Homo sapiens: one gene and its partners. The protein of the gene in region 6 purifies or fractionates together with the protein of the main gene of each other region. This does not show direct contact. Each region holds a gene or a part of one and is shown on either strand. Other genes may lie near its edges.

Region 1 (4,107 bases), on a different chromosome or scaffold from region 6:
GCATAGGAGTTAGGTCCCCACATGCCCAGCCGGTCACCTTTGCAGAGGCCAATGCTCAGGAGGCCAGAAGCAGCTTTGTCCACCTAGTGTAAAAGATGGGGCGCAAGGGGTGAAAGGGGGCAAGCAGGAAGGGGCCCAAGACTCCCACCCTCAGCCCTTAGCCCGGAGTTCTCATCACAGTCACTGGGGACAAAGGGACAGGCAGATTCCCAGCCTCAGTGGGTCTGCCCTGGGGCCTGCATAGTTAACAGGTGCCCCAGGAGCTGCTGATACAGGAGGCATTGGACCCCTTGTGCGTCAGTCCTGTCTCCTTCTCCTGCCATCCCTCGGGGTTCTCTGGCAGCCCTAGCACATTGCCCCATAGCCAGGTGCCCACGCTCCTGGTTCTGCCCAGCTAGGGCAGCTTGGGAGCTAGTACTTGCCCACTTTGAGGTTTCCAGGTCAGGACCCACCTCCTCCTTGAGTTGGGCAAAGGTCAACCTGACGTCTTCATGGAGGACGACCAAGGCCTCTCGTTCTGGGACCCTCTGTGCTGTGGTCTCCAGGCACTGGCCCACAGTCTTGCTGTTAAGATGCTTTTTGGTGCACCCCTGAACGTAGCTGAGGCCTCCGATGGGCGTGGAGACCATGCGATCCACCTCTCTGGAACTGTAGGGAGAGGAGCTATGGGTTTGACTGTCCCAGATCAGTCTCCCTGGAACCAAGGGCATGGCACACCCAGCCAAGCCAGGGGGTAGGCTGCTGACAATGTGTTAGAGACCACTAGGTTTCCTCCAGATCTTCTTGTAAGCCTAAAATCCCCCAGACCCTTTTCCCAACCTCAAGCCTAATCCCAAGGCAGCAGGACAGGGACAAGGTTACACCAAGCTGGAGCAAAGGGCCCTCCTTCGCCTTCCCGGGAAAGGTGAGATGCCATAGTGAAGCCTGGGAGAGCCTGCCTGTGCAGACAGACAGATCTTACAAAGCAGGACCATGCCTTCACCCCTAGCCCCTGCCTCCTGGAGAATAAACAGGTCACTGGGGTCCTTCCTGAGGAACCAGGGAAGCGTGCCTGGACCCTGGGCTTGAATCCAAGGTCTTAGGATTTTAGACTCCTTGGTGGGCCAGTTTTTCTCCTGAGGGCCTGAAAGCCAAAGACAGAATAGGAAAGGGATAAAGGAGAGGGCAGATGGAGGCCCTAAGAGAGGCAGCTGGGCGGCCCCTGTTATTCCACAGGCCTGTAGGTGTTCAGTGCCAGGTGCTAAAGATCCTGGGCACCTGCAGATGAAGAAGAAAGCCCCTATATGCCAAATGGCACCTGGGCTCCAGCTCCCACTCTCAGATGATGTCACAAGGCAGGCAGGCAGTTTCTGTCTCCAGGGAATTAAGAAGCTGGCTGAAAGCAGCCAGTTAAGGCAAAGGGGCCAGATGTCAGATAAGCAAGGGGCACCAAGAGCCTGAGAGTACTGAGCTGGGGATGTTGAGTGGAGGAAGCAGCCAGCTCGGGACCTGGCTCGGGTTCTAGTCTGGGGCCGGGACTCTTCACCTCTCACATGTGGCTACCTATCCATTTCAGTGCACAGGTGGAAACAGGTCTGGGTAGAGGCCTGGGCAGTCACGGGAGTAGTAACCTACTCCCCAGTTTTCTCCATCGGCCTTTCAGGAACTACCCATCTCCTCCCAGCCCTGCCAGGTAAGAGACAACCCCTAAGTAAGGGCACGTCAAGCTGGAGGAGAACCTGCACTTCCATTACTGCTCCACTTAACTTTCCCCACCTTTTATTAACTGTGGCACCTGAGCCAGGCATGGTGGCTCACACCTGTAAAGTCTTGCCAGCACTTTGGGAGGCTGCAGCAGGAGGATCGCTTGAGCCCAGGAGTTCGAGATCAGCCTGGGCAATATAGGGAAACCCTGTCTCTATGAAACATTTTAAACAATTAACCAGGTATGGTGGCGCATGCCTGTAGTCCCAGCTACTCCGGAGGTTGAAGGGGGAGGATCACTCGAGCCTGGGAGGCAGAGGTTGCAGTGAGTCATGGTTGCACCACTGCACTTGAGCCTGGGTGACAGAGAGAGGCCCTGTCTCAAACAACAAACCAATAAAACCCAGTGGGACCTGGCAAGTTATCTGTTTACTCTTTGGCTCGAAGGGGATGAAGAGACTGCCTTGCCTATTCCATAGCAGGGCCATGACGTTCAAGCGTGAACAGGCCTGCAAAGGTGCTTTGCGAATGGTGAAGTGCTCTGTAGTCGACAGGCATTTTACCATCCATTCATGGCATTTATCGACCATGCTTTCGACACACATTCAGTGAGCACCCGTATGTGCCAAGTACTATGCTAGGACTAGAGATAGAACAAGCCACAGTCCTTCTTCTAAGAAGCTCCCTGTCTCTGGGGAAATTAGACATATTAGCTCTTCGTGGGTGGGAACAGCCTAGAAAATCAGGAAATGGGAGCCATGAGGCAGACTGTGGGGGGAATCCCAGCCCATCTGAGGCCCATTGTCTGTCCCCTCAAAGCTGGGTTAAGGCAGCCTCTCTTAGACCTGGGCCCTGGGGCCACCCATACTATGGCCTCCTCAGCCCTACGGAGTACTTAGCCAACATTTATTCCTCCAACAAATATTTAGGAAACACCCACCACAGAGAGGGCCCAATGGTAAAAAATGAACAAAGCCAAATACAGTCCCTGTCCTTGCAGAGATAAGGGTCTGGTGGGAAAGACAGGAGTGCAGTCAACCTTGGTAATGATGAATGTATGTTTAGAAAGCTGAGATAAGGAAGGGGCCGTGGTCCTAGGAGCACCTGTAAGACGGAATCTGGGATCACCTGGGGCTCCAAGGAAAACTCCCTTAAGAAATTTATGCCTAAGCTGACAGCTGAAGGGTGAGGAAGTATTAATCATCAGAGAAGGGAGAGGAGGGCTTTTCCAGCAGAGGAGAGCTTGTCTCTGTGGCTGGGGCATGGAAAATGAAAGGGAGTGCTGTGAGAACGGGAGGGTGACTGGAACTTGAACCCAGCTGAAACCAAAGGGTCCAGAGCAGAGGACATTGGGCCTGGAAGAATGAGGAGAGCCCCCAAACTCCAGGTTCTGGGGTTGGGGTTTTCTCCACCCATGGGCCCAAGTGGACCCACATCATTTATGAAGTGAAGAGGGATGGATGGATGTTGGAACCAGGATCTGTGTTTATGGGCTGATCCCTCCCTTGTCCCTCCAGGGACATCAGAAGGAACCTTCTCAACCAGTGTCACTCCCTCCTCCAAGTGACAGTTTTTCAAGATGTGGTCCATGGAGAGCTGCTTCGGAATCATCTCAGGATCTCACAAAGAATGCAAATTCCTGGGCCCCTGCAATGCCTACTCATTGCAGAGCTTCTGGGGAGTGGACCGGGAGAATCTGAATTTTTAACAGAATCCCATGTGATTCTGATGTGGGACTGGGTGAGGATTCTATGAATCACACTTTGACAACCACTCTCTTGGCCATCTAAGCCACCCCAACCGCCTTTGACTCATCTATTCAAGCAAGCTTTAGTGAGCACCTACTATGTGCCAGCCCTGTGCCAGGTACTAGGGATACAGGGATGGATAAGACACTGCTCCCAGCCCTCTAAGTAGCCATAGTGTGGTAGGAAGAGAAATGTATGTAAACAAATCATTTCAACTCTCGGATTAAGGCTATTCGGTAAAGAAGAGAACCAAAAGAAGATAACCTACTCTCTCCTAGGGGTACATGGGACAGAAGTGGGGTTTCTTTCCCCACACTCCTCACATCTCAACTACCAACCTCAGCTCCTCCTGCTTCTCCCCCTTGTAATTTCATTCAATTCCATATGTCTATGAAATCTGTGGGCCCTCAGGGTCTACTGAGATCTGCCAAGGTCTAGAGTGGAAAACTGGTCCTCTTCCCATCCCACTAGTGATGAAGGAAGATGCTGCATGTCCCTCCAAACCTCCACACCCTCCTGGCCAGAGATGGCCACCAATGGTGTGGTCCTCAGCCTAGGGGGCCCTGGGAGCTTCTACCTGGATTCCACCAGGGACTGCCTAGCCCATATCCAATGATGGCCTGGAAGGTCTGGAAGCCAGAGCACATCTTCTCCTATGGGAACAGAATTTGCTCTG
Region 2 (4,646 bases), about 56 Mb from region 6:
ACTCTTGCCCTGGAGGGAGTTGGATACTTTGGGATCTATTGAGAAAAATATAATAGCTACATGGGACACAAGTCTGGAAATATATACATCAAAATATTACCAGTAATTATGTCTCTAAGTGGTGAAACTTTTAGTGACTACTTTCTTTTTGCTTCTCTGTACACTTTAAACTTTTCTATAAAGATTAGTTAACATAATTATTCAAAACTCTAAAAAACATTACAAACTATGCCACTTTCACTGACTGCATCCCTCCTAGCCCCAAACTGAACAGACTTTCACAGGGCAATAACATATCAAGGTGCTCTGATAATGAAGTCCACAGAAAATTTTCCCTATAACTGAGAATCAGGAAAGGCTCTGCTTCCTTCAAGGCCATTAACATTTGGGGGATCAATGAATGAATGAATGAATGAAGTTGCCATGTATGTTTTACTTTCAAAAGACAAGAACCATGTAACTGACCAAGTTTACCTTTCTAGAAACAAATTTGGGACTCAACTACAAAAATATAGGCCTGCAATGACCTATAAGGGAGCCGCTACACAGAGTGGCTATTGGAATATAAATTAATTAAATATAGCACATTTTCATAATCACAGAAAATTCTATTGGATAACACTGAAACACTTCATTCTTTTTTTCCCCTGGAATAGTTTCTTGTACTTATACTTTCTCTCATCTCAATTCCTGGCCATATTTATCTTCTATTTATTTGTTACTATTCTGTGATTTTGTTGCAAATGACCTTAATTCCTTTGTGGATCAATTTGGGGCATTGTACTTTGGAAATATCAGTGTGTATATATGTCACTGTTCCTGAGAGTTCAACCTTCATTTCTGACCATAAGGCAGATCTAGCAGCTCATGTAATGTAGCTATTTCCTCACAGCTCAAAGACGGAAGAGAGGCCGGGTGAAATGGCTCACGCCTGTAATCCCAGCACTTTGGGGAGGCCATGGTGGGTGGATTACTTGAGGTCAGGAGTTCGAGACCAACCTAGCCAACATGGCAAAACCCTGTCTCTACTAAAAGTATAAAAATTAGCTGGTCATGGTGGTGCGTGCCTGTAATCCCAGCTACTTAGGAAGCTGAGGAATGAGAATCACTTGAACCCAGGGGGCGGAGGTTGCAGTGAGCCAAGATGGCGCCACTGCACTCCAGCCTGGGCGACACAGTGAGACTCCATCTCAAAAAAAAAAAAAAAAGACTCAAGAGGACATTGTCAGGAACTAAGCTCCCCTGTCACAAAGGCACTATATTCAGTGTTTTTTTTTTTAAATACACAAAAAGGTATACACTGTCCATTAATGGAAAGTTTCACTATTTGATTAAAGCTTAATTTGAAGCTGAGTAATGCAATGTCTTTTTCAAATTCCAAAATACATGGCTATCAACTTATTTCTAAAATCTTAAATATATGATTTACCACAAAAAACAAATGGCCCAACCTGTTACTACTGATAAATATATGATCATGTCATCAGAGTCCTGGATACGCCAAAGAGAATCAGAAATGAAAATGCGCGCAGCTCCTGCACAGTGGGATTCCCTGTCAGCCCACGGTTCTGATGGAGTGTCGCCTCTACATAGAAGTCAGTGCAATTTTGAGTATTTTACCAGATTTTCAGTTCTAGAAAAAATGACTGGGAGTAATAAGCAGTGTAGATCAAAAACTAAATACAATTATAACAAAGATGAAAATTAATAGATGTGGCCCAAAGTGGCAAATCTTTGACTTTAATCACATGCTAACTGGATAGGCAGGGGGTACAAAGAATAAAAAAGTAAAGATCGGCCGGGCGCGGTGACTCATGCCACGCCTGTTATAATCCCAGCACTTTGGGAGGCCGAGGCGGGTGGATCACCTGAGGTCAGAAGAATTGCTTGAACCCAGCAGGTGGAAGTTGCAGTGAGCCGAGATCGCGCCACTGTACTCCAGCCTGGTGACAGGGCGAGGCTCTGTCTCAAAAAAAAAAAAAAAAAAAAATTACATATGAAATGTGGGAAAACACACTGAGAATTATTCCTAAAAAAGTTGAAGTATAATTAGAGACCCTATTGTAATTTTTAGCTCTCTGGCTACAGAATTTCCCTTCTGATACTTTGTCTAACATTTGACTTGTTTTTCTGGAATGCATCCCGTTAAGGGAAGGATGAGCATATTTATCAATACAATCTTTTAGGAAATAATTAGGAATATACCAATACCTTTATTTCCATAATTTTAATATCTTCTTGGGAATCGTACTATAGAAATTACATTAATGATGGAAAAACTTTCAGCACAGTATTGCTTCCTTTGTAGGTGGTGATGATGACAGCTAACATTTACTGAATCCTTCCCATGCTGAAAACCCTATTGTAAGCTATTTATGTTCGCTAAGTCACTTATTCTTCAGGGCTATCCTACTAAGTAAGCATTATGATTACCCCCACTTTTACAGGTGAGAAAATCGAGGCAACAAGAGGTTGGTTAACGTGCCCAAGATCAGATCGCACAGCGGTATAATAGGATGGAAAACTCCTATCACATAATGAACGTTAAGTGAAAAAAATTAGTATCCAAAACTGTAAGTCTGATGTCTCATTCTTTTTATAATTTAAGTAGTTTATAAATACCCTCATTATTAGCCATATTTCTGAGCACTTCATATGTAGAGTGCACTTTACAGAACACTGTCATGTAACCCTCACACCGTCTACGAAATAAGTGATAGTTTCCAGTTTCCAAAAACGAAAGCGGGGCTAGGAGAGGCCAAGTGCCTCGCGTGGCGCCTCAGGATTCGCCCCAGCGGAGCAGACCCCAGGGCATCCCAGGCGGGTCCCGGCCGAGCTAGCGGCCCTGCGGTGGCTACGCCCGGGCCCAGCCGCTCGCGCTCCTGGAGCCGCCGGACTACGCGGCACGCGGACGCCGAGCCTGCCCTCTTGGGTCTACATAAAAACCGAAACTACGGGCAGTCTTAACCGAAATGGAGACTTAATTTTTTAGACTGTCTTTTGTGTAGTTGAGAAAGCCCCTTGCCGGGACCCGCGCTGCTGGGCCTCCGACCGCGTCCTCACTCCGGGCCCGGGCGGGGCGGGGCGGGGCAGGCGGCGCCCAGGCTGCGTCCCGGCTCTGGCGGCCGCGGGCCCGGGCCTCCTGCGGGCCTGGGGCTTCGAGCTCAGGCCCTAGCGCTCTATGGAAGCCGCGCGCGACCCCCGCTCCCCTGCGCGCGACCCCCGTTCCCCGCGCGCGCCTCACCTGACGCGGGCACCGCTCTCCGTGCAGCCTCCGGGCGCCACCGGCTTTGCGGACCGGGGCGGGATCCCAGCTCCGATTGGCTGCCCGGCTGGGGGGCGGGGGCCCCGAAGCGGGGTGGCGGAGACCGGGAGGGGACCGGAGGCGGTGGGGAAGGGAGTGGACGGAAGGGGAGGGAGGGTCCCGGCCTCGTGCGGTCGCGCGTGAGATCCTGGCCTCTGTGCCCTGGGTCTGGCGCCTGGGGCCGTAAGAACCGTCCGTGCGCCTGCCCTGTTCTCTGCACCCAGCTTGGTGGCGAGGGGTGGGTGGTGGGTGCCGGCCGACCGGAGGGCGTATGGAAGTGGCTGGGCCCCCTCACGGTGTGCCTGGCCCCCTCACGGTGTGCCTGGCCCCGGCGTGGGGGGGGCAGGCCCGGGGGGTGTCGCATCTCTCTTATCCGCCCCCCACTCACCACGTAGAACCCACTGGATCCCATTGGTATTTAGTGGCCCCGGGCCGACTGAACTGGCGCCGAGGCTTACCTGAGTCCTTCCTGTAAATGTGAGGAGCGGAGGGAATATTCCAGGAGGCCGGTGTCTGCGATGTCCTGCTCTTGGGTAGCTAGGAAGTAGTGAACGTGGTCTAGGGAACTGCCTGGGCTCTTATCCACCTGGGAATGGGTTTGTTGGGGATCCTGATGTGGGAGAAGCCAGGGAGCTTCTAGCCTAGTGGGGCTAGGGGAGAAAACAGGGAGAGGGGTGGATTAGGCTGAAGGAAAGAGATCTCTGATCTTAAAGGCAGCGTTCTGACGGGTAAGGTTGACTGGCATTTTCCCCAACAAAGAGTTCTAGTACCGTATTCCATGACCTGACAAGCCTGTTTAAGTGAGGTTTTGTTGAGTGCAAAGAGAGAAGGCTTGGCTTTGAATTTTTATCTCCAGGCGGGACCTGCCTCCTGAACTCCATACTCCTCTATCCAGCTGCCTCCTTAATACCTCCTCTTGGATCTCTAAAATACATTTCAATCTCAACACATCCAAATCTGTGCCCCTGATCTCTTCCCCATAGCATCACCATCTCGATGGCAACTCCATCTTCCAGTTGTCAAGGCCAGAAACCTTGCTGTTTCAGAAACCTTTCTCTCACATCCCACCTCCAGGGCCCAAAAATTCTGTTGGTTGGATCTCCCTAGCATACCCAGAGCCTGACCACTTCTTACCTCTGCCTCCATCATCTGCTACCTGGGTCATGACAGTGGTCTCTTCCCTGATATCCCTGCAGCCTGTCCCCATAAAGCAGCCAGAGTGACCTTAAAAAAAGAAAGCCAGATCAAATTCCTCCTCTGCCCAAAACCTTCCCAGTGGTTTCCCAAACTCAGAGTAAAACCCAAAGCCCTGCCTGATCTGCTCCTCTGTTACCCCTACAAC
Region 3 (4,107 bases), on a different chromosome or scaffold from region 6:
ACTTAAGAGATATGTTGCTTTTTACTTAAGGGATAGTGTTGATAGATAAATTAGAATGTATAGATAGGTTTGTGAAAGTCTAAATAATGGTTGTATAGATATGTATATATGGTTCACATATCTGGATCTGTGTATTTGATTTTGTACTTTAAATGTGACAAATAAACCTTTTGGGAGAAAACTTTGTTGTTTATTAAACATTATAAGGAATATTGCCTTCTACAGAAATACAAAAATTGCCTGCTCTATGAGGGCTTGGCAGAGACTTCTCAAAATAATGTACTAGATGAGAAAGATTAAAAAGCAGATTCCAACTAAGGTATGCCATTTCTTTTTTTTTTTTTTTCTTTTCTTTTTGAGATAGGGTCTCACTCTGTCACCCCAGCTGGAGTGCTGTGGTGTGATCATGGCTCACTGCAGACTGGACCTCTGGGCTCAGGTGATTCTCCCATCGCAACCTCCTAAGTAGCTGGGACTACAGATTCACACCACCATGCCCGGCTAATTTAAAATTTTTTTTTTTTGTAAAGACACGGTTTTATCATGTTGCCCAGACTGGTAATGAACTCCTGAGCTCAAGCAGTCTGCCCACCTTGGCCTCCCAGAGTGTTTGTTAGGATTACAGGCCTGAACTACTGCACCTGGCCAGGTATGTAATTTCTTATGTATAGATTAAGACTTCTTAAAAAAAAATCAATAGCTTAGTTTCAGTTCTTGGCACAAGCCATTAGTTTTAGGTGAGAAACTACGTAAGAATTTTTAGGGCTTGGAAGAATTTAAACTGATACTCGAATATAGTTTTTTGGTTTGGACTACTCAATATACCTGGGCCTTAATGCTGCCTAGGGAATATGTGTGAAATTTCATAGTTCCATAGATGGAGAGGCAGCTAGGAGCCTTGACCGTGTCCTGCTGCCCACTGCAATGTCAGGTTCCATAGGCTGTATGGCTGTACATACAGCACAGAGGAAACTGCAAACTGGAAAACTTCTCACTACTCTCTAGGACCTGGCCTGAATTCCTAGTCACCTACCCACCTGGTGGGACCATAGAATGCTGGAAGACTGCCTTTGCCTCATGTATTTCAGGTCTACACTCTACTATCTGCTCTCCATGCCAATTTTCCTATGAAATCATTTTCTAAGGAGGGGAGATGATGGGGTAAAGTGCAGGGCAGTAAGGTAGAAACAGTAATACTTAGCATTTTCACAAGAGCCCCTGAAACATCTGAACTCTGTCCACCAAAGGCTGGTTCCATCTGTAACACCACTGCCAGCTGTGGGGACTCGAGTGCAATCGCTTCTCTAATTAGGTTAAGAAACAAATGCTTATTATCAAGCATCATGTAGAAAAATAATTATTTTAACGAGGGAAAAAGCTGTTGGAAACCATATAATTTCAGACTTAGAATAAAACTTATTTTTTCCTGCAGGAATTTATCACTGTGCAAAACCAGGTGTGATAAAGCTGGCTGTATTTTACCAGGCAGGTGGGAGGACTCGCTTAGCATGTTCTTTTGTTGTTCTGAATTAAAAAAAAAACATTTTAGGTTCAGAGGTACAAGTGTGCAGGTTTGTTATTTAGCACGTTCTTATCACCCACTTCTCTGATCAACCAAGGACAAACACTTTTCCTTTCCATTGCCTGAAGTGATGACCACAGGTAAATGCCGTGTCCTACCATGCCTTTGACTCATTCCAAAATGCCTCTGGGAGGAAGAGTAAGAGTAAGGAAGCTTAGTCTAGGGGTCAGACTTGGAGAGTGGCTCAGCATTTAATGCTGATGGGTTGAAAAGGAAAAATAACACTGCCAGATTATTCCTGGAGAATCAACTACTACTTTATGGGCACTGTAAATTGTCAGGACTAATTTTATTAAAAGTGCATAATTAAGACTTGCGGGTTCATCATACTTTCATTTAAAATTCAGATCCCTTTATGGGATTTCTTTCATGTGATTTTGGTAATGTACCACTGCTGAGAGCATACAAAACATGACTGAGGAAAAAAGCTATTTATGTCAAACTTGCCCCACTGCACACGTTCTTCCCTGTGTCTTCACAGATACCAATATTACTTACACTGCATCTCATGAACACTTTTTGACTGAAAGATGTAATATATTGGTACCAAACCGGATGGAGAATAAGGTGTAGCCAATACCTTGAATGTAACTTTTCACAATGCTAATAGGTAAAGAAATAAAATCACCATAGCCTATTGTCTTTATTATCAAAGTTTATTGTTGGGGTCAGTTCCTATCTACTAGGGAGTACAACTATATCTCAATATGTGCTATAGTAATTCTAGGGTAACAGCCATTCTGCAAAATAGTTGTACTGGGGCTCTGTTAGGCATAGATCATAATTAAGTCAGTGGAAGAATGAGCCCAGAGAAACCCTGGCAGCAGAGCCGTTACTCTAGGAAAGTTCCAGTGCTATGCAACCTGTAAGGCATCATCGCTCAGCTGATGATGAGACTCACAGAGGTGTTGGTGGAGCGAAACAGGAGTTGAACCCATTTTCTACTCTTCTTGGCAGGGTAACTATGGCTCCAAGGAAGGAACCCAAAATTAGGTCTTGTAAAATCTTTTAAGCTCCCAAAGCAAGAGAAATAAGACATGAAGAAAGAGCCAGTAACTAGGACAGATGAAAAATTAGGTGGAATTGGAGGGAATGGAAACTTCTGGAATGCAAAGTAGCTGGGTTTAGACGCCATTTGAGATGACCAAGAATACAGTACAGGTAAAAGCAAATGGGGCAACAATTCAAATATTGAGTTGTTCAAATACTAGAGGTTAAGTAAAATTTCCCCCCTTGGGGGAAAACTGGTTGAAAAGGATCAGAAAGGTGAATCAGTAACAGGACAATGAGTACCTGAGTAGAAATAGGTGTTTCAAGATGCCAAGAACAGTTTAAATATACAGGTGAGCTGAGTCTACAAGAAGGAAAAGTGGTTATGGCAGCCTGTTTCCAGATCTGATCATTGGAATGACATTTCTAGCAATGGCTTTGTCTGTGAGGTCCTGGCATATTTTGTGTAGCACAGATCCCTTTAAAGGAATGTTTTCGTAACACTCAAACTTATGTGGGAATGCAAATTACTATAGTGTAAAAATTCAATGACTTCCCACCTATTCCTGCAGGGCAGGAGATCAGAAGTCTTAAAACAGCTGTGGCTAAAAGCCCAAGCCCTCCCACTGCCCCGTGATAAAAATATTAAAGAAATTAACAAAACAAGCATCAGATGAGTCAATGGGCCTTGTACCATGTAGACAACAGATAATTTATAGCGACTTCTTCTGCAGGCAGCCTGAGAAACAAGAGCTTGCATACGAAATCCTGCCCTATCATTAAATATAATAATGAAAAAAACAGGGCCATTAAATGAGACCCTAAAAAAGTCTAGCTGCCAATCAGGTTGGGAAGATAAATAAAACAGCATAGTTTATTTTAACCTATATCTTCCACACTAACCTAGTTTGTCTATAGAAAAGCCATCTGCTGGCACCAGGCCAGTATGTCTTAATTTTCTTGTTATTCTAAGTATCTCATTTTTCCAAAAGAGGAAATGTGTAAGTAGCAGGTGTACATAGGTGACACATTTCTACAAAGCCTTCTCTGTAGTCTTGACCTGTGTGGGGACAGGGTCTACTTTTGGAAGCATTTTCAAAGGCAGAATAAAACTTTACTTGAGGTTTTCTCCATAGAAGGACACCAGAGTTGTGCCCATATGATGAGTCCCTCGTTGGTGTTGAATAAATTGTCTTTTCTCCAGGAAATAACCTTTGTTCTTTCATATTTACAGGTTTCTTTTGATGGACAGATGGAGTAATCTCCAAAACAAGAAATGGGGCAGAAGCAGTTTCTTTTCTGATCATGTCTCTGATGAAATGATAGGTCCTAGACTTTTCTGATACCTTGTATGGTGTGGGGAGGGGCTGGGCTGTGTCCTGGGATGGATGTACAGGCTGCTGTCTGGACCGGGGCTGTTCAGAGCCCCGTGGCCTTTTCCTGATGTTCCCTGCGCATCCAGCGCATCCACACTTTCAGGAATAATCATCTTGAGGAATTTCATCCCCAGCTGTTTAAATCAGAGTTCCATTTGC
Region 4 (4,640 bases), about 33 Mb from region 6:
GAGGCTGAGGCAGGAGAATGGCGTGAACCCGGGAGGCGGAGCTTGCAGTGAGCTGAGATCGTGCCACTGCACTCCAGCCTGGGCGACAGAGCAAGACTCTGTCTCAAAACAAAAACAAAAACAAAAACCCTCAGGGTTGGGAGGCCCAGGCAGGTGGATCGCTTGAGGTCAGGAGTTCGAGATCAGCCTGGCCAACATGGTGAAACCTCATCTGTACTAAAAATATAAACATTAGCCAGGCGCGGTGGCAGGAAGCTGTAGTCCCAGCCACTTGGGAGTCTGAAGCAGGAGAATCACTTGAATCCTGGAGGTAGAGGTTGCGGTGAGCAGAGATGGCGCCATTGTACTCCAGCTTGGGCGACAGAGCAAGACTCCTTCTTAAAAATAATAATAATAATAATAATAAGATAAGGATAATAATAGTACCTCTCTGATAGCCTTATTGTGAGCATTTAATCAGATAATATTTGCAAATTGCATACATAACACGGTGCCTGGTGCTCAGGAAGGACTCGAGAAATGCCAGCTGTTACTAAGGGAGGGCTGGCAGGGGATAGGACATGCTTCAGCTCCACTCCTGGTTCCTGTATGCACCCCAGAGACCTCTCCAGTGCTCTGGCCCTGAGCTGTGAGCTGACTCCTCTATGCCCAACAGTCCCGACTGCCAAAGGACTCTGCCCTGCAGAGGCAGCCTCCGCCCCCACCCCATCTTTGAGCTGGTCCTGCCCCTTACCCCACAGCTGCCCCACCAAGCCTAGATCTCCAGCAAAGCACCACGTGGGGCCCTGGTCCTGATCACTGGAGCCAGCCAGTCAGAATTGGGGCCAGCCTGCCCCTCAGCCAGGAGCCTGGCACCGCCTCCCCCAGCGGGCTCCTGGGCCACCCTGCCTAGGTTGTTAGTAATAAAAATAACTACTTAATAAGTGGAGCTGCAGCCAAACCAATTAGTGCCAACCTACAGGAAGGCCTGGGGCAACCTGAGGTCACCTAGAACACTGGGCTTGTTGGAAGCCAGACCACTCTGCTCTAGAACCAAACTCCTATCCTTACTGGCAGGCATAAGAGGACCCCACAGGGAGATCAGAGTGAGGTGCCTCCCCTTGGGCACTGAGGAGAGTGGAGGCCTAGTGTGGTAGCAGAAGGTGCTACTCCAAGCCAGGACACATCTGGGCCAGAATGGTCTCTTCAGGGCCAGGGGATGGGGCACTGAGTTGGGCTGGGTTGAATGAGCAACAGTTAAGGTCGAATGTACATGGGAAATACCAGTTTTGGTTTTGGGACTTGTGGGTTTTTTTTCTTTTTTTGAGGTGGAGTCTTGCTTTGTCGCCCAGGCTGGAGTGCAGTGGTGCGATCTCAGCTCACTGCAACCTCCGCCTCCCGAGTTCAAGCGATTCTCCTGCCTCAGCCTCCCGAATAGCTGGGACTACAGGCACCCACCACTACACCCAGCTAATTTTTGCATTTTTAGTAGAGACGGGGTTTCACCATGTTGGCCAGGCTGGTCTCAAACTCCTGACCTCAGGTGATCTGCCCACCTCGACCTCCCAAAGTGCTGGGATTACAGGTGTGAGCCACCATGCCTGCCAGGTTTTTTTATTTTTATTTTTTTGAAACTGGATCTCACTCTGTTGCCTGGGCTGGAGTGCAGTGGTGAGATCATGCTCACTGCAGTCTCAAACTCCTGGGCTCAAGCAATCCTCATGCCTCCGCCTCCTGTGAGACTACAGGTGTACGCCACCACACCTGGGTAATTTTCAAAATCTTTTTGTAGAGACAGGGTCTCATTACATTGCCCTGGCTGGTCTGGAATTCCTGGGCTTCAGCAGTCCTCCCGCCTCGGCCTCCCAAAGTAGAAATATCAGTATTGTTGTGGTTAGCCACCATTTATTGAGCACCTACTGTTGCTCAGCCCTGTGCTAGGGATTTCACATATGTTATTACGGCCTTTTATGAGGTGGGCAATATTACCCCTATTTCACAAATGAGGAAAGAGGTTTAAAGGGCTCAAGTGACTGGTACAGAAACCAAGTCTGTTTGGCTCCAAAGTCCAGGCCCTACCCCCCTGCCATGACCCAGAAGCTTGCAGGGCACTGAGCTTGCAGGGCATTGAGAAAGAGGAAGTGAATTGCTAGCTAATGAAGGCCAAAAGGGCCTGGAACCCAGACCTCCTGCTTCCCGGAGTTCCCTTCATCAAGCATCAGGCGAACAGCCCCTCTCACCTGAAGGGTCCAAAGCAATGGCCTCATAATCTAGTGCCTTACAGAGTGAGGCCGACAGCTATTATTACCCCCATTGCCAGATAAATCAACTATGGCCCAAGGAAGGAAAACCTCTGCCTGGGAATCCAGCATCTCAGTGGTCAGGAGGAGAGGCCAGGAGCCACTGACCCTAAGAGGCAGGGTCCAGTGAGACAGGAAGGGACCAGGCACCAGGGTTGCTGGAGCCACGAGGCGACGTCCCCTTTTTCCTGGCTCTTTCCACATGCCACAGTCAAGGACAAGAACACTTAGGGGCTGAGCTTTATTCTATAAACAGGGACAATTGCTCTAGCAGGAGAAGGGATGTGGTGTGGGGTGGGACCTGACAGGAGGACACGTGGTAAGAAGGAAGGAAGAGTTGGAAGGCTGAAGGCTTGGGAGCCACTTTTCCTGGCCAGGCAGGCATCACTGTGAGGTGAGGGCAGAGCCACTCTACCCCTAGTAGTGTGGGTTGGTGGGTTTGCCACAAGGGCTGCCTGCGGATACTGGTGAGTCCTGGTAAAGGTGACTGCTGGGCTCCAGATGATGCGCCCGGGAGGGCTGGGGGTGCAGGCTTCCTAGGTAATTTTCAAAATTGCTTCCTGGAGGGCGATTCCCAGCAGGGTGGCCCGAGGCAGGTCTGGCGCCCCCACTCTCTCCTTTGGAGGCTAGGAGGACCGGAGTCCCCGAGGTCCCACTCACCTCCGAGGCCATGTTGGGCGGTTCCTCGTCGTCCGGAAGCTTCGGTCCTCCGGGTCTGGAAGACAAGACCGGACTGACGACCTCCTTGGCCAGCAGGGTCCCCCGGGCCGGGCTGGCTCCGAGTTCTGGGCACTGCGCTTGAGGGAGCGCAGCCCTTGGGGACGCGGACGTGAGCGCGCGCCACGGTGCTCGGCGTCCTCCACGCCCGTCCCGCCCATCCGGCCGCCGCGCACTCACCTCCGCCTGGCCGCACGGATAGTGTCGCGCCCGCCACTGGCCAGGGCTTTTCTGGCCGGGATGGCGTCAGCAGCCGCCGGTCCTGTCCCCACCCCTGGCGACGGCCGCGCCAATAGGAGGCCGCCCGGCGGGGTGGGCGTTGCCTCCATCCTCCAATCCTGGCCGTGGGCGGGGATACCTCCCGCTGAGCTGGAGGCTAAGCGGCCCCGGGGCGGGGAAGCGGGCGGGGAAAGGGTTGGGGGGACCCCGACGGGGAAGGGGCCTGGGCTGGGGTTGAGGAGGGTAGTGCGCTGGCGTTCGTGCTGTGGTCAGCAGACACGCAGGGGACTGGAGACTCGGGCCAGGGGTAGAGGCTATGACATCAGGCCCGGGCCTGGCAGGTTCACAAGATATATAAGGTGAAATGGCATGTTCGCTCATTCACTCATTCATTCATTCATTCAACAAACACGTACCAGGCACCTCTATGTGCCAGGTACAGAGAAAGGCATCAAGGAAAAAGGAAGGACCATCAGAAATGAAGCCTGTGCCAGGCGCGGTGGCTCACAGCTGTAATCCCAGCACTTTGGGAGGCCGAGGTGGGAGGATCGCTTGAGGCTACGAGTTGGAGACCAGCCTGGGCAATACAACAAGATCCCGTCTCTACAAAAAAATTAATAATAATAAAAAAAAAGCCGGGCGTGGTGGTGCACGCCTGCAGTCCTAGCTACTCAGGAGGCTGAGGCGGGAGGAGCACTTGAGCCCAGGAGTTCGAAGCTGCAGTGAGCTATTGTGCCACGGCACTCCAGCCTGACTCCTCTAAAAAAGAAAAGAAACGCGGCCGGAGGCCGGGCGCGGTGGCTCACGCCTGTAATCCCAGCACTTTGGAAGGCCGAGGCGGGTGGATCACGAGGTCAGGAGTTTGAGACCAGCCTGGCCAAGGTGGTGAAACCCCGTCTCTACTAAGAATACAAAAATTAGCCGGGCACGGTGGCGGGTGCCTGCAATCCCAGCGACTCCGGAGGCTGAGGCAGGAGAATCTCTTGAACCCGGGAGGCGGAGATTGCAGTGAGCTGAGATGGTGCCATTGCACTCCAGCCTGGGTGACAGAGCAAGATTCTGTCTCAAAAAAAAAAAAAAAAAAAAAAAGAAAGAAAGAAAGAAAGAAAGAAAAGAAAAGAAAAAAGAAACGCAGCCGGGCACAGTGGCTTACGCCTTTAATCCCAGCACTTTGAGAGGCTGAGGCGGGCGGATCACCTGAGGTCAGGAATTCGAGATGAGCCTGGCTGACATGGTGAAACCTTGTCTCTATTAGCCGGGTGTGGTGGTGGGTGCCTGTAGTCCCAGCTACTCCGACAGCTGAGGCAGGAGAATCACTTGAACCAGGGAGGTGGAGGCTGCAGTGAGCTGAGACGGCACCACTGCACTGCAGCCTGGGCGACAGTGAGACTCTTGTCTCGAAAAAAAAAAAAAAAAAAGAAAGAA
Region 5 (4,107 bases), on a different chromosome or scaffold from region 6:
GGCTCAAAAACAAACAAACAGACAAAAACATTTGCTGGAAGCTGATCCAAACAGACCACAAGGGTTAACACTGAAGAATTAAAATGCACATTGAAGCTTGCTCAAAATGTAATTCAAGCATTTCCCTTCTTTCTTTCTCTTTTTTCCTTTACCTTTCCTTCTCCTCGCCCTTTCTCTAAGAGTTAGGCATCTACTTTGCTTTTTCCCTCATTCTGCTTTCATGGACGGTGAGATGGACAATGGCTGTCCCAGGCTTACTGTCCACAGTGTGGTATCCTCTAGGTCTGGGAAAAGTGGACCTCCTGAAACACACATCATGGCCTGTGGTACAAATCTGGCCCATTGCCTGTTGTTATAAATAAAGTTTTATTGGAATACAGCTTGTCTCATTTGTTTATGTATTGTCTGTCTATAGATAGTTTTGTACTACAATAACACAGTTAAGTAGTAGCAACCGTATGGCCAAAAAAGCTGAGAATATTTACCATCTGGCTCTTCACACAAAAAAAATCTGCCGACCTCTGTTTTAAAATGTAAAAACATAAAATTTCTTGGAGAAAAATCTTTGTGGCATTGGGCTGGGGAAAGATTTCTCAGACACAACACCAAAAGCCCACTTCGTTAAAAAAAAAAAAAAATGGATAAACTGGATATCATCAAAATTTGAAACTTTTGCTCTGTGAAAGATACTGCTAGGAGAATTAAAATCCACCAACTGGAGTAAACATTTGCAAAAGGGACTTGTAGTCAGAACACTTTTTTTTTTTTTTGAGTCAAAGTCTCACTCCACTGCCCAGGCTGAAGTGCAATGCCATAATCATAGCTCACTGCAGCCACAAACTCTTGGGTTCAAGCAATCCTCCTGCCTCAGCCTTCTGGCTAATTTTTTATTTTTTGTCGAGATAGGGTCTCACTATGTTGCCCACGCTGGTCTTGAATTCCTGGTGTCAAGTGATCCTCCCATCTTGGCCTCTCAAAGTATTAGAATTATAGGCGTAAGCCACCTCACCCAACCCAGAACCCTTTTTTTTTTTTTTTTGAAATGGAGTCTTGCTCTGTCACCCAGGCTGGAGTGCAGTGGCATGATCTCCGCTCACTGCAAGCTCCACCTCCCGGGTTCATGCCATTCTCCTGCCTCAGCCTCCCAAGTAGCTGGGACTACAGGCGCCCGCCACCATGCCCAGCTAATTTTTTGTATTTTTAGTAGAGACGGGGTTTCACCGTGTTAGCCAGGATGGTCTCCATCTCCTGACCTCGTGATCTGCCCATCTGCCCACCTCGGCCTCCCAAAGTGCTGGGATTACAGGCGTGAGCCACCACGCCTGGCCCAGAACACTTTTTTTTAAGCTCTCAAAACAGAAGCAGGCTAGTGTGCTGGCTCATGCCTGGAATTCCAGCACTTTGGGAGGCCGAGGTGGGTGGATCACCTGAGGTCAGGAGTTTGAGACCAGTCCGGCCAACATGGTGAAACCCCATCTCTACAAAAATACAACAAAAAAAAAATTAGCAAGGCGTGGTGGTGGGCATCTGTAATCTCAGTTACTGGGGAGGCTGAGGCAGGAGAATCGCTTGAACCTGGGAGGCAGAGGTTGCAATGAGCCGAGATGGCGCCACTGTACTCCAAACTGGGCGATAGGGCCAGACTCCATCTCCAAAAACCAAAAACAACATAATGAGCAAACAACCTGGTTTCAAAAATGGCAAAAGATTTGAACAGATACTATACCAAAGAATATATATGGATGGCAGACAGGCACATGAAAAGATGCTCAACATCATTAGTCAAATTAAAACCACATCGAGACACCGCTACCCACTTATTAGAATGGCTAAAGCAAAATAAAACAAAAAACAACCAACAGCAACAAAACAGACAATGTCAAGTGCTGGCAGGGATGTGGAGAAGCCAGAATATTCATGCACTGCTGGTGGGAATGCAAAAATGTGAAATGTGACAGCCACTTTGGAAAACAGATTGGCAGTTTCTTATGGTGAAATATACACTTAGCATGGGATCCAGCAATCCTACTCCTAGTATTAAGGCAATAGAAAGGAAAATCTATATTCACACAAAAATCTGTATATAAATGTGCAGAGCGGCATTATTCATAATCATCCAAAACTACAACAACCCAAATATTCTTCAAGCCATTCATGGATAAACTGGGATACACCATACAACAGAATACCACCTGGCAATAAAAGGTATCACCAATTCATGCTACTTGTGTGAATCTCAAACACATCTTGCCACATCATTTCTGTGCCTTCCTGGAAAAGGCAAAACCATAGGGATGGATCTGTGGTCGCTGGGGTTAGGGAGTGAGGGGAAAAGTCGATTACACAGGGACAGGAGGAGGGAGTATTTCTGTTTGTGGGAGAGCGAACTTTCCAATCTTTATTATGGTGGTAATCAAACAACTTTATCCGTTTGTCAAAACTCAGAGAACTCTACTCGAAAAAATGAATTTTCCTACATGCAAATTTAAAAATAAATTGTCTGAGTGTGGCGACTCATGCCTTTAATCCCAGCGCTTTCAGAGGCCAAGGTGGGAGGACTGCTTAAGCCTGGAGTTCAAGACCAGCCTGGGCAGCACAGAGAGATGCCATCATTACAAAAAAAAAAAAAATTAAAAATTACCCAGGAATGGTGATGCACACCTGTATGCAATCCCAGCTAATCGGGGGGCTCAGCTGGGAGGATCACTAGAGCCTGGGAGGTCAATACTGCAGTTAGCTATGATTGTGCCACTGCAGTCCAGCGTGGGCGACAGAGTGAGATCCTGCCTCAAAAACAACAACAAAACCACAATAAAAATAAATTTTAAAAGGTTTAAAAAGAGAACTTCTGCTTTGCGGCCCTGTTCCTCCTGACACTCTGAGTCAAGGCTGAGCAGCCCCTGCAGGTCAAGTTCTTGGTCAACTAGTAACACGGGAGAAACCAACAACCTGCCCTGCAAAGCAGTTTCATGACGTTTCTGGGCCCCCACCCCACTCTCTGGAGGCCCTTCCCTTGACCTTCTCCAAATCTGCATCATCAATCCTGGGCCAAATCAGCTTCTATCCCACAAGCTCCAACCACAACTGGGCCTTGTCACCACTCAATTATCACTGACTCCCAAGTCGTAGCCACTTCTGTCTCTCGAGGTGCAAGGCCTGCACTGTCCTGCAATCAAGATGCTCACCCCTCTGGTATTCCCTGTCAGTGGTCACCACCCATTGAGGCTCGGCGGTCACACGATGATGCTCACGGTCAGGCATGCCATTAATAAGTGGCAGGGCCAGGCCTCAAGTTGTCATGACAATGCAACTGTCAAACTGGCAAGGCCCTTCACAATCGGACCCAGGTGGTTCTCCAGCCTCAGTCGCCACCCTCCCTTCCCGCTCACTCCAGCTTCTTGCCAATATGCTACAGGCCTCTGCTTTGGCTGTTCCCTCTGCAGGGCACTAGTGTCCTCTCCTTCACTTCCCAGCTCATTTTTTAAAATTAGTATTTTTTTTTAAAGAGATGGGGGTCTCTCTTTGTTGCCCAGGCTGGTCTTGAACTCCCAAGCTCAAGTGATCCTCCTACTTTGGCCTCCCAAAGTGCTGGAATTGCAGGTGTGAGCCACCATGCCTGGCCTCCCAGCTCACTTCTATTTTTACTTATTTTTCTTTTGAGAAAGGGTCTTGCTCTGCTGCCAAACTAGAGTGCAGTGGCATAATCACGGCTCACTGCAGCCTCAAACTGCCTCAGTTTCCCAAGTAGCTGGGACTACTGGTGTGTGCCACCATACCTGGCTGATTTTTAAATTTTTTTAGAGACAGGGGTCTCATTTTGTTGCCCATGCTGGCTTCAAGTCATCCTCCCACCTGGGCCTCCCAAAGTGCTGGGATTATAGGTGAGAGCCACTACACCAGGCTGGCTCATCTTTAAAAAGCTACCTTCCTGGCCTGGCGTGGTGGCTTATGCCTGTAATCCCAGCAATGTGGGAGGCCGAGGTAGGCGGATCACCTGAGGTCAGGAGTTTGAGACCAGCATGGCCAACATAGTGAAACCCTGTCTATACTGAAAATACAAAAATTAGCTGGGCGTGATGGTGCATGCCTGTAGTACCAGCTACTCAG
Region 6 (4,107 bases):
TTTGCAGAGGGGTGAAAAGGGACTTGACAGATGTGGGCGGAGGGGAGGGAGAGCAGTGCCCTTCCTGGACACCTGGAGGAACCGCACACCCCGAACTCTCGCCCTTTGCATTAGGCGTGGCCTTGCCATTGCACCTGCCAATAAAATGTGGGCAGAAATGTTAAGACCCAGGGCATGATTCCGCAGGTTCCGGCTCCCTCGTGGCATCTGGGACAGCATGCTGGGGACAGCTTCCATCAGAGCACCTCACAACACCCACACTGGACATAAAATGTGAGCAAGAAGTAAATATCTTTTTTTTTCTGTTTTTGAGATGGAGTCTCGGTGGCTCACCCTTGGCTCACTGCAACTTCTGCCTCTGGGTTCAAGCAATTCTCCTGCCTCAGCCTCCCGAGCAGCTGGGACCATGGGCGCCCACCACCACACCCGGCTAATTTTTGTATTTTTAGTAGAGATGGGGTTTTGCCATGTTGGCCAGGTTGGTCTTGAACCCCTGACCTCAGGTGATCTGCCCTCCTTGGCCTCCCAAATTGCTGGGATTACAGGTGTGAGCCACCGGGCCTGGCTCTTTTTTTTTTTTTTTTGAGACAGGTTTTGTGTCGCCGAGGCTGAAGTGCAGAGGTACGACCATAGCTCAGTTCAGAAGCCTCGACCTCCCATGCTTAAGTTATCCTCCTGCCTCAGCCTCCCAAGTAACTGGGATTATGAGATTACAGGTGCACCACCACACCCAGCTAATTTCTTAACTTTTTGTAGAGACAAGGGTCTCACACTGTGTTGCCCGGGCTGGTCTCAAACTCGTGGCCTCCAGTGATACTTCCACCTCAACCTCGCAAAGTGCTGGGATTTTAAGTGTGAGCCACCGCACCTGGCCAAATCTTTACTCTGTTAAGCAACTGCAGCCAGGGACTTTTGGTTACTGCAGCATAACCCAACCTGTTCTGCCCAATTCTGGTACATGAGAGAATGCAAGGAAGAAAAAAAGGAGGGAGGCAGGAGAAAGGAGGGAGGAGATGAGAGTTGCTGGGCTCTCTCGGAGGCCTGCTGTGACCACACACCCTCCCTCCCCTCCCTATTCCTCACCGCTGCCACCAGGCTGTTGTCTGTGATGAAGGTCAGCGCCAGCAGTGGTAGTGTTTCAGAGGCCAGAGTCGCGACGCTGAGGGGAGAGAGCTGTGAGTCACGGTGTCCCACTCCTCTGCACTCACCTCCTCCCCTGGGGATGGCCTCGACTCACGCCATCTTCTTGTCGGCATCAGCCAGGCAGACGGTGCTGTCGTGGCTTACCCAGGCCACGCGGCTCCCGCTGGCTGAGAAACAGACGCCATGTACCCAGCCGCAGCTACTGCTGGATTCGAACATCAGTTCCCCAAAGGGCATCTTGGAGCCCCACGGGGTGGGTGCCGGCCGTTCCTCCACCTCCTTGATGTAGGCTGAAAAGATCCTACCGGGATAGGCAAAGTAGAGGTAAAGTAGCCAGGCATGGTGGTGCGCACCTGTACTCTCAGCTACTCAGGAGGCTGAGGCGGGAGGATTGCTTGAACCCAGGAGGTCAAGGCTGCAGTGAGCTGTGATTGCGCTACTGTGCTCCAGTTTGGGCAACAGAGTGAGACTGTCTCAAAAAAAAAAAAAAATTTTTTTTAAAGGGTTAACAGGTGCCTGGGCATGGTGGCTGAAGCTTGTAATCCCAGCACTTTGGGAGGCTGAGGCAGATGCATCACTTGAAGTCAGGGGTTCGAGACCAGTCTGGCCAACATGGTGAAAACCCGTCTCTACATTTAAAAATACAAAAATTAGCCGGGCATGGTGGCATGCGCCTGTAGTTCCAGCTACTCAGGAGGCTAAGGCAGGAGAATCGCTTGATCGCTTGAACTCAGCAGGCGGAGGTTGCAGTGAGTCAATATCACGCCACTGCACTCCAGCCTGGGCGAAAGAGCGAGAGTCCGTCTCCAAAAAAAAAAAAAAAATCCTGTCTAGCTGGGCGTGGTAGTCTTGCTTGGGAGGCTGAGAAGCAAGAGGATCGCTTGAGTCCAGGATTTGGAGGCTGCAGTGAGCTATGATTGCACTACTGCATTCCAGCCCGGGCAACAGAGCAAGCCCCTAGCTCAAAAAAAATAAAAGAGGTGGGCAGAGGCCCATCCAGCTGAGACATGAAGGGTTCCCCAGGAACTAGAACCTTCAACCGACGCCCAGGTCATCCACTGGTAGCAGGTCTGGAATGTGTCTAGAAGCTGGGGTGTAGAGCTTTCAGGTGCGGCTCCCCGCTATGATGTCAGCAGTCAGTTGACGTCAGCCCCGCCCTCCCCCATGGCGCCCTGTCTCACCGACACTTGAAGTCACAGGAGCCGGCAGCCAGCAGCACATTGTTGGGGTGCCAGTCCAGGCTGAGGACGGTGGAGCGGATGGGCTTCTTGATGTGCTTGCAAACCCACCTGGGAACGGTGGTCAGGCAGACAGGGAGAGAGGGACAGGCAGGTGGGACTCATGGACCTCAGCACCAGGGACTCCAGGCTCCCACTGCTCCCTGCAGCCCACCAAAGACCCAGGAGAGAGGCGACTGGGCATTGCCAGCCCACAAGGCCGTCAGGGCCCTGGGGCGGCAGGGATGTGCTGTGTCGCTTCTGGAGTGGGAACTCTGTGCCCTCTATCCTTTAGGCCACACAGTCACCCTCAGAGCAGGCTCAGCAAAGTGATGCCATCACCAGAGGTCACACAACTACTAACTGGCCATGGTGGGATGCAAATTTGGGTCTCTCAGATGCTCCTGGCTGGCCTCTGCCCTCAGCCATGCAGGGGAGATTAAAAACTAAGACGTGGACTGGCAATCATGGCTCACACCTGTAGTCTCAGCACTTTGGGAGGCTGAGGTGGGAAGATTGCTTGAGGCCAGGAGTTCAAGACCAGCCTGGACAACGTGACAAGACCCTATCTCTACAAAATAAATAAATAAATGATTTGGGCCTGTAGTCCGAGCTACTCAGGAGGCTGAAGTGGTAGGATTACTTGAGCTCAGGAGGCTGAGGCTGCAGTGAGCTATGATCACAACACTGCACTCCAGCCTGAGCGACAGAGCAAGACCTTGTCTCAAAAATATATATATGGCCGGGCGCAGTGGTTCACGCCTGTAATCCCAGCACTTTGGGAGGCGGAGGCAGGAGGACCACCTGAGGTCAGGAGTTCAAGACCAGCCTGACCAACATGGAGAAACCCCATCTCTACTAAAAAATACAAAATTAGCCTGGCGTGGTGGTGCGTGCCTGTAGTCCCAGCTACTCAGTAGGCTGAGGCAGGAGAATTGCTTGAACCTGGGAGGCAGAGGTTGCGGTGAGCTGAGATTGTGCCACTGCACTCCAGCCTGGACGACAGAGCAAGACTGTGTCTCAAAAAAAAAAAAAAAAAAAAAATTGGCTGGGCACGGTGGCTCACGCCTGTAATCCCAACACTTTGGGAGGCCGAGGCGGGTGGATCATGAGGTCAGAAGTTCTAGACCAACCTGGCCAAGATGGTGAAACCCCATCTCTACTAAAAATATAAAAATTATCCGGGCATGGTAGCAGGTGCCTGTAATCCCAGCTACTTGGGAGGCTGAGGCAGAGAACTGCTCGAACCCGGCAGGCAGAGGCTGCCGTGAGCCAAGATCGTGCCACTGCACTCCAGCCTGGGTGACAGAGTGAGACTCCATCTGAAAAAAAAAAAAGGAACAAGATGTGGCTGCGAGCTCGTGAGTGGTGCCTTGAGAAAGTGACTGCTACAGGGCCTTTGCTAATCTGTAAAGTGGGGACAGTGACCGATGCCCAGTCCACGGAGCTGCAGGGAAGTCAGGACTAATGTGTGTGCAGGGCTTAGTGAGGTGCCCCCAGATGTGTTTCTGGTGTGGTGGGTGTCACTGGCAGTGAGAACATCCGGACGCTGCAGAGAGGCCCTTGCCTCATGAATGAGGCCCAGAGAGGAGAGGATGGACTCCCCCAGGGTGATGGGAACAGGGGTCCTGACATCCCATTTGGTGCTTCCCGGGGACACTCTAGTCCTGCCCCCGGTCCCTAACAGCCCACTCTGGCCCTGCCTAGGTACCCACCAGTCATTCTCCTGCTCGAAATAACAGATGGA
Region 7 (4,107 bases), on a different chromosome or scaffold from region 6:
AGCAATGTAATTTTATTGACAAGATTGTCTTGAGATATAATGTTTTAAAAATAAGTGAAATCTTAAACTGTCATCACAGTAGCCCAGTTTGGATGATGAAATTATAATCTTTGTTTGAATAATATTTTAAAAGTGCAAGCATTTGTTTTCCCTCAGAATAAATCCTCCTCCACCCTACCCTGTTCATGAATTATGCCCTTGTGTACTGTTCACTTCAGGATACGTAACAGCATAAATCAAAGGTAATAGTCTGTTTCCGGCTTTGAATTAAAGTCAGAAAGAACTCTATTATAGAAAAACTACTTGGGAGAAGCTGTGATGTATAAGAGCAAGGATTCCCGGCTTACGTTGCGAATCACAGACTGATTGGTCAGACACCATTTTTGCAGGCCTCCTGTGAAGATGGCTGGATCCCAGAGAAGAAATGACTACGTGGTGTATGTTTAGGTGGATGAGTCTGCCTTGGATCCTGAGCTTTCAGAGCAGCAGAATGATTCCTATGCAAGTAGAAATGATTGTGCTGCATATTTAGGCAGGCAAGGTCTTAGAAAGTGTCACTTCCAAGCCAGTATGCATGGACAGAGTAGTTGTCTTATGATGTCTATGTATGTCATTACAGTAACAGAGAGACAGTGGGCCTGAGATTTTCATGACTACACATGGGCTCTACCTGTGGCCTTGATGGTAAGTCCCAAGATGGCAACAGTTACAAGCAGCTAGTTCTGCCCAAGAAGAACCAGGAAAGACTATATAGGGGGAAATATGAAATCTTGAAATTAATAACTAAAAAAAAAGACTGTCTAAAAAATTGAGAAAACCTGTATGTAGAAAGCCTGTTCTCAACTGACGTGTGTGGATGGTGCTCGGGTCCGCAACCTGGGCCGGGGGTAGCTTGGGGCTTGGGTGAGAAACAACATTGGAGAATAGTAATGTAAATCTTAGTGTTCCCTATCCCTCAAGTTGCCGTGGGTCAGTATTTCCCTGCCCATACCTTCCCTGCCCATTCGTCTTGGGTGTAGGCCCCATAGCGCTGGATTGTAGGTCATACAGAGGTATCAGGGCAGAACAAAAGGCAAGCTGGGATAAGGGTTGATAACACACAAGTGTAAATTCACTTTCCCACCTCTGTGTTATCTTCTCCTAGGAAAGGGTATCTATAACCTACATTTATTGCTGAGTAGGGAAGAAAGTCATAGGTTTATTATAGCTATGATAAATGCTCTAAAGAAATAGAAAGGTACCTATGAAGGCAAACAATGAGAAAATATGATCTATTCTGGGAGGAGGGTATTAGTGAGAACTTGCTCAAGGAATAGATGAGACTGGTACCTCGTGGTTGAACTTATTTGGGGACAGAATTGAGATGGAAAAATTTGATATCAAAGGAAGTATCAAAACCCTTGATGTGGTTAAGAGCATGGATAGTGAAACTAACCTCTGATGTATGGTGAGAGAGCAAAAGAGAAAGGATTGCAAAGAAACTGGAATGTAGAGGATGAACATATTGGTAATAATAATACTGGTGGAATTGTTATTCAGGAAAAAATAGCAATTATTCCTGTTCATATCTCAAATCATTGTATGTTGTTTATTTAAAGGGAGACATGGTAGAAGATATCAAATATAAAAATGTTATCCTTCTGGTTTTCAAATCAAAACCAGGAATAACGCATATCACACACAAAACTCATCAATGTGGCCAATTTTCCATAACATTAGGAAACCCGTTCCCAATGAAGTTAATCAGTATCAAATCACCTTACAATAGCCATGACATTAGTACCCTGACACAAGGTGCACAGGACCTAAGGAAATAATTATAAAGCTACTCTGAGGGTAATGAAAGAAGATCTGAGAGACATTTGTTCTTACTATGTTCATTGTAAATTCACAGAATACTAGAAACAACATAAGCCAAATAACGTAGGATCATTTTATAATGTATGGAATAACCATGCAATTTTTCTGGTACAATAAAGTAATTTAAATCTATATTGTATGGTTGAATGGCAGTTCAAGATATATTAATAAAAAGCATGAGTTATAGAAAAATATGCGTAATGTGATTTACTCTGAGAGAATATAATAAGACTCTTTGTATATACATAATGAAAGGTGTAAAGTCAGAAAGACCATGTACTGAAATGTGGCATTAGATAAAGATTTCTGATAGTTAAAAATTAATTATTTTTGCTTATGTACCTTCTTTTCCTAAATTTTTAAAGATGGTATTATTTGAGTTATAATAAATGAAAGAGAAAGAATCAGTGATAGTGTTATGGTTGGCTCTGTTTTTTCCCACCTTGTTCTACCTTAAAGTATTATTTTCGTGGTGTATTGAGGGAAAAACAAAAAGGTAAGCCAAAAGGAAAATAAAATTAAAAAGATATCTAATTATACCTGCTATGGAATAGAGATGATAAAAATAGAATTTTAATTTTGGATAGGACCTCAAAATACACACTTGATAAATAAATGACTGATTTGGTTAAATTAAAGCATTGTATGTAGTAGGGGATTGGTGAGGTGCTTTCAAGGTTGTGTTAATCCTTGTCATTACATTGTAGTGAGGGGAATGTATTGGGAAGAGGGAACTTGTACCGTGGTTAAGAAACTGCTGCTTGGTGTTGATGGAGGCATCTGAGGAGTGTGGGGATGGCTCTCAGCTGGGCCTATGCTGGTCATGAACGGTCCTGGAAAATGACTCCCTTCCTTCAGTATCTGCATCCTCATGAAGTCATTCATTTTGGAGATTGTGTCTTCACTTTTCTAAAGGAAAATAGATGTTTGTTCTTTTTTTCTAGTTAATGTTTTTCAAGATCAGATGAAACACATCTTTTCCTTTTTTCTTTTTTAAATAGGATGTTCACTTTGCCAGTTTCTCTGTTTTTCCCTGAGTTGCAGGAGGAATAATACCACATATTCAGATACTTCTATCACTCAGCCTTCTCTCATCCCAGTCAGGATTAAAAACTCAGATAACTGAAATTGCATTGTCTGGGGATGGAATACTCAGTCTTCACGTCCTGTAAAACTGGACTGAGTTATTTGGTCAGGTACAACTCTTAGGGCTATTTTGGGGGCAGCATGGCTTGCAATAAAGTTGGCTACATTTATGGACATTTATTAACTAGGCCTTTCTCATCAATTAGATACACAAACCAGTCTCTCTCAAGTGCTCTTCAGCATACAAGAAACCCAGATCTCCATCCTTTAGGGATCTCTGATCATAGCCATAATAAGAAGATTCTCTCAAATTCACAATTCCTCAGGGAAGGTTCTATGATCACTACAGTATGGATCAGGCAATCAGAATCTTTCAGAGTTTTTAGCTGTATTCAGAAGAATTTAATATTCCACCTAAAGCATTCCCATTAGCTATATTTTTATACATTTTTCAAGTAAAATTGGGGAATATCTCTAAAATCACATACCTTGACTACTTTTAATTAAACCAATGGAAGTCCAAAAAATATTCATCCTATTTGGCCAATGTGGCACATTATTTTAGCAGTTTTCCCATTCAGTAACCTAATTTTTTAAGTGGCAATTGTTGATAGAGAGGTACACAAAAGAACTGCTTGTAGTGAGCTCACATGGAGAACAGCTTCTTGATTAGAACAGTCTCTGACCACCACTGAGCACCTGGACTATGGAAATAAACCCCAAACAAAACACTGTATTTTCAAAATTGTTTAAAAATAAACTGCAGACATTTTAACATTTGCACACCTACTGTGGATTCAATCTATGCTCATTAAAGGTTCACATTTTAAATGTTAACATTTTAAGTTCAATAAGGCTGCATTTGAATCCTGACTCTAATACTATCTGTGTGACCCTGAGGAAGATTTCTTTGCACCTCAGTTTTCCCACATGTGAGATGGGACTAGCCATAGCATTTTTTTATGGTGTTATAAAGAATAATTTAGGTAATGTGCACAAAGAATGGGTTTTAGAGTCCAGAGCTCAGTAAATGCTCAATAAATAAATCTTTGTTGCTATTATTTTTCCACGATCTATTAGGGGTTTGCATGTCTGCTCCGGTGAACAGATATTTCATGCTTTATGATGCCCTTGTTGATGGAAACCTTGTATGGAGGTAAT

Evidence for each region.
Region 1: the proteins of ARPC1B (region 6) and ACSF2 fractionate together in Homo sapiens (co-fractionation; one large-scale study listed by BioGRID). This does not show direct contact.
Region 2: the proteins of ARPC1B (region 6) and BLVRA fractionate together in Homo sapiens (co-fractionation; one large-scale study listed by BioGRID). This does not show direct contact.
Region 3: the proteins of ARPC1B (region 6) and POGK purify together in Homo sapiens (affinity purification with mass spectrometry; 3 studies listed by BioGRID and IntAct, with this or other methods). This does not show direct contact.
Region 4: the proteins of ARPC1B (region 6) and ASL fractionate together in Homo sapiens (co-fractionation; one large-scale study listed by BioGRID). This does not show direct contact.
Region 5: the proteins of ARPC1B (region 6) and ELAVL1 purify together in Homo sapiens (affinity purification with western blotting; one study listed by BioGRID). This does not show direct contact.
Region 7: the proteins of ARPC1B (region 6) and IFI16 purify together in Homo sapiens (affinity purification with western blotting; one study listed by BioGRID). This does not show direct contact.

Annotation. Positions count from the first base shown.
Region 1 is NC_000017.11:50,457,218-50,461,324, reverse strand, and holds part of ACSF2 (medium-chain acyl-CoA ligase ACSF2, mitochondrial isoform 2 precursor), read right to left. Parts: intron 649-4,107; coding exon 453-648; intron 84-452; coding exon 1-83. UniProt on the Homo sapiens protein: Acyl-CoA synthases catalyze the initial reaction in fatty acid metabolism, by forming a thioester with CoA. Has some preference toward medium-chain substrates. Plays a role in adipocyte differentiation.
Region 2 is NC_000007.14:43,757,333-43,761,978, reverse strand, and holds the start of BLVRA (biliverdin reductase A), read right to left. Parts: upstream 3,300-4,646; 5' UTR 3,245-3,299; intron 1,963-3,244; exon of another isoform or gene 1,869-1,962; intron 1-1,868. UniProt on the Homo sapiens protein: Reduces the gamma-methene bridge of the open tetrapyrrole, biliverdin IXalpha, to bilirubin with the concomitant oxidation of a NADH or NADPH cofactor. Does not reduce bilirubin IXbeta.
Region 3 is NC_000001.11:166,852,584-166,856,690, reverse strand, and holds the end of POGK (pogo transposable element with KRAB domain), read right to left. Parts: exon of another isoform or gene 4,107-4,107; 3' UTR 332-4,106; downstream 1-331.
Region 4 is NC_000007.14:66,074,393-66,079,032, reverse strand, and holds the start of ASL (argininosuccinate lyase), read right to left. Parts: upstream 3,215-4,640; 5' UTR 3,177-3,214; exon of another isoform or gene 2,995-3,176; 5' UTR 2,952-2,994; coding exon 2,940-2,951; intron 1-2,939.
Region 5 is NC_000019.10:7,995,161-7,999,267, forward strand, and holds part of ELAVL1 (ELAV-like protein 1), read right to left. Parts: intron 1-4,107. UniProt on the Homo sapiens protein: RNA-binding protein that binds to the 3'-UTR region of mRNAs and increases their stability.
Region 6 is NC_000007.14:99,388,230-99,392,336, reverse strand, and holds part of ARPC1B (actin-related protein 2/3 complex subunit 1B), read right to left. Parts: coding exon 4,076-4,107; intron 2,433-4,075; coding exon 2,325-2,432; intron 1,445-2,324; coding exon 1,238-1,444; intron 1,160-1,237; coding exon 1,084-1,159; intron 1-1,083. UniProt on the Homo sapiens protein: Component of the Arp2/3 complex, a multiprotein complex that mediates actin polymerization upon stimulation by nucleation-promoting factor (NPF).
Region 7 is NC_000001.11:159,043,959-159,048,065, reverse strand, and holds part of IFI16 (gamma-interferon-inducible protein 16), read right to left. Parts: intron 2,770-4,107; coding exon 2,602-2,769; intron 1-2,601.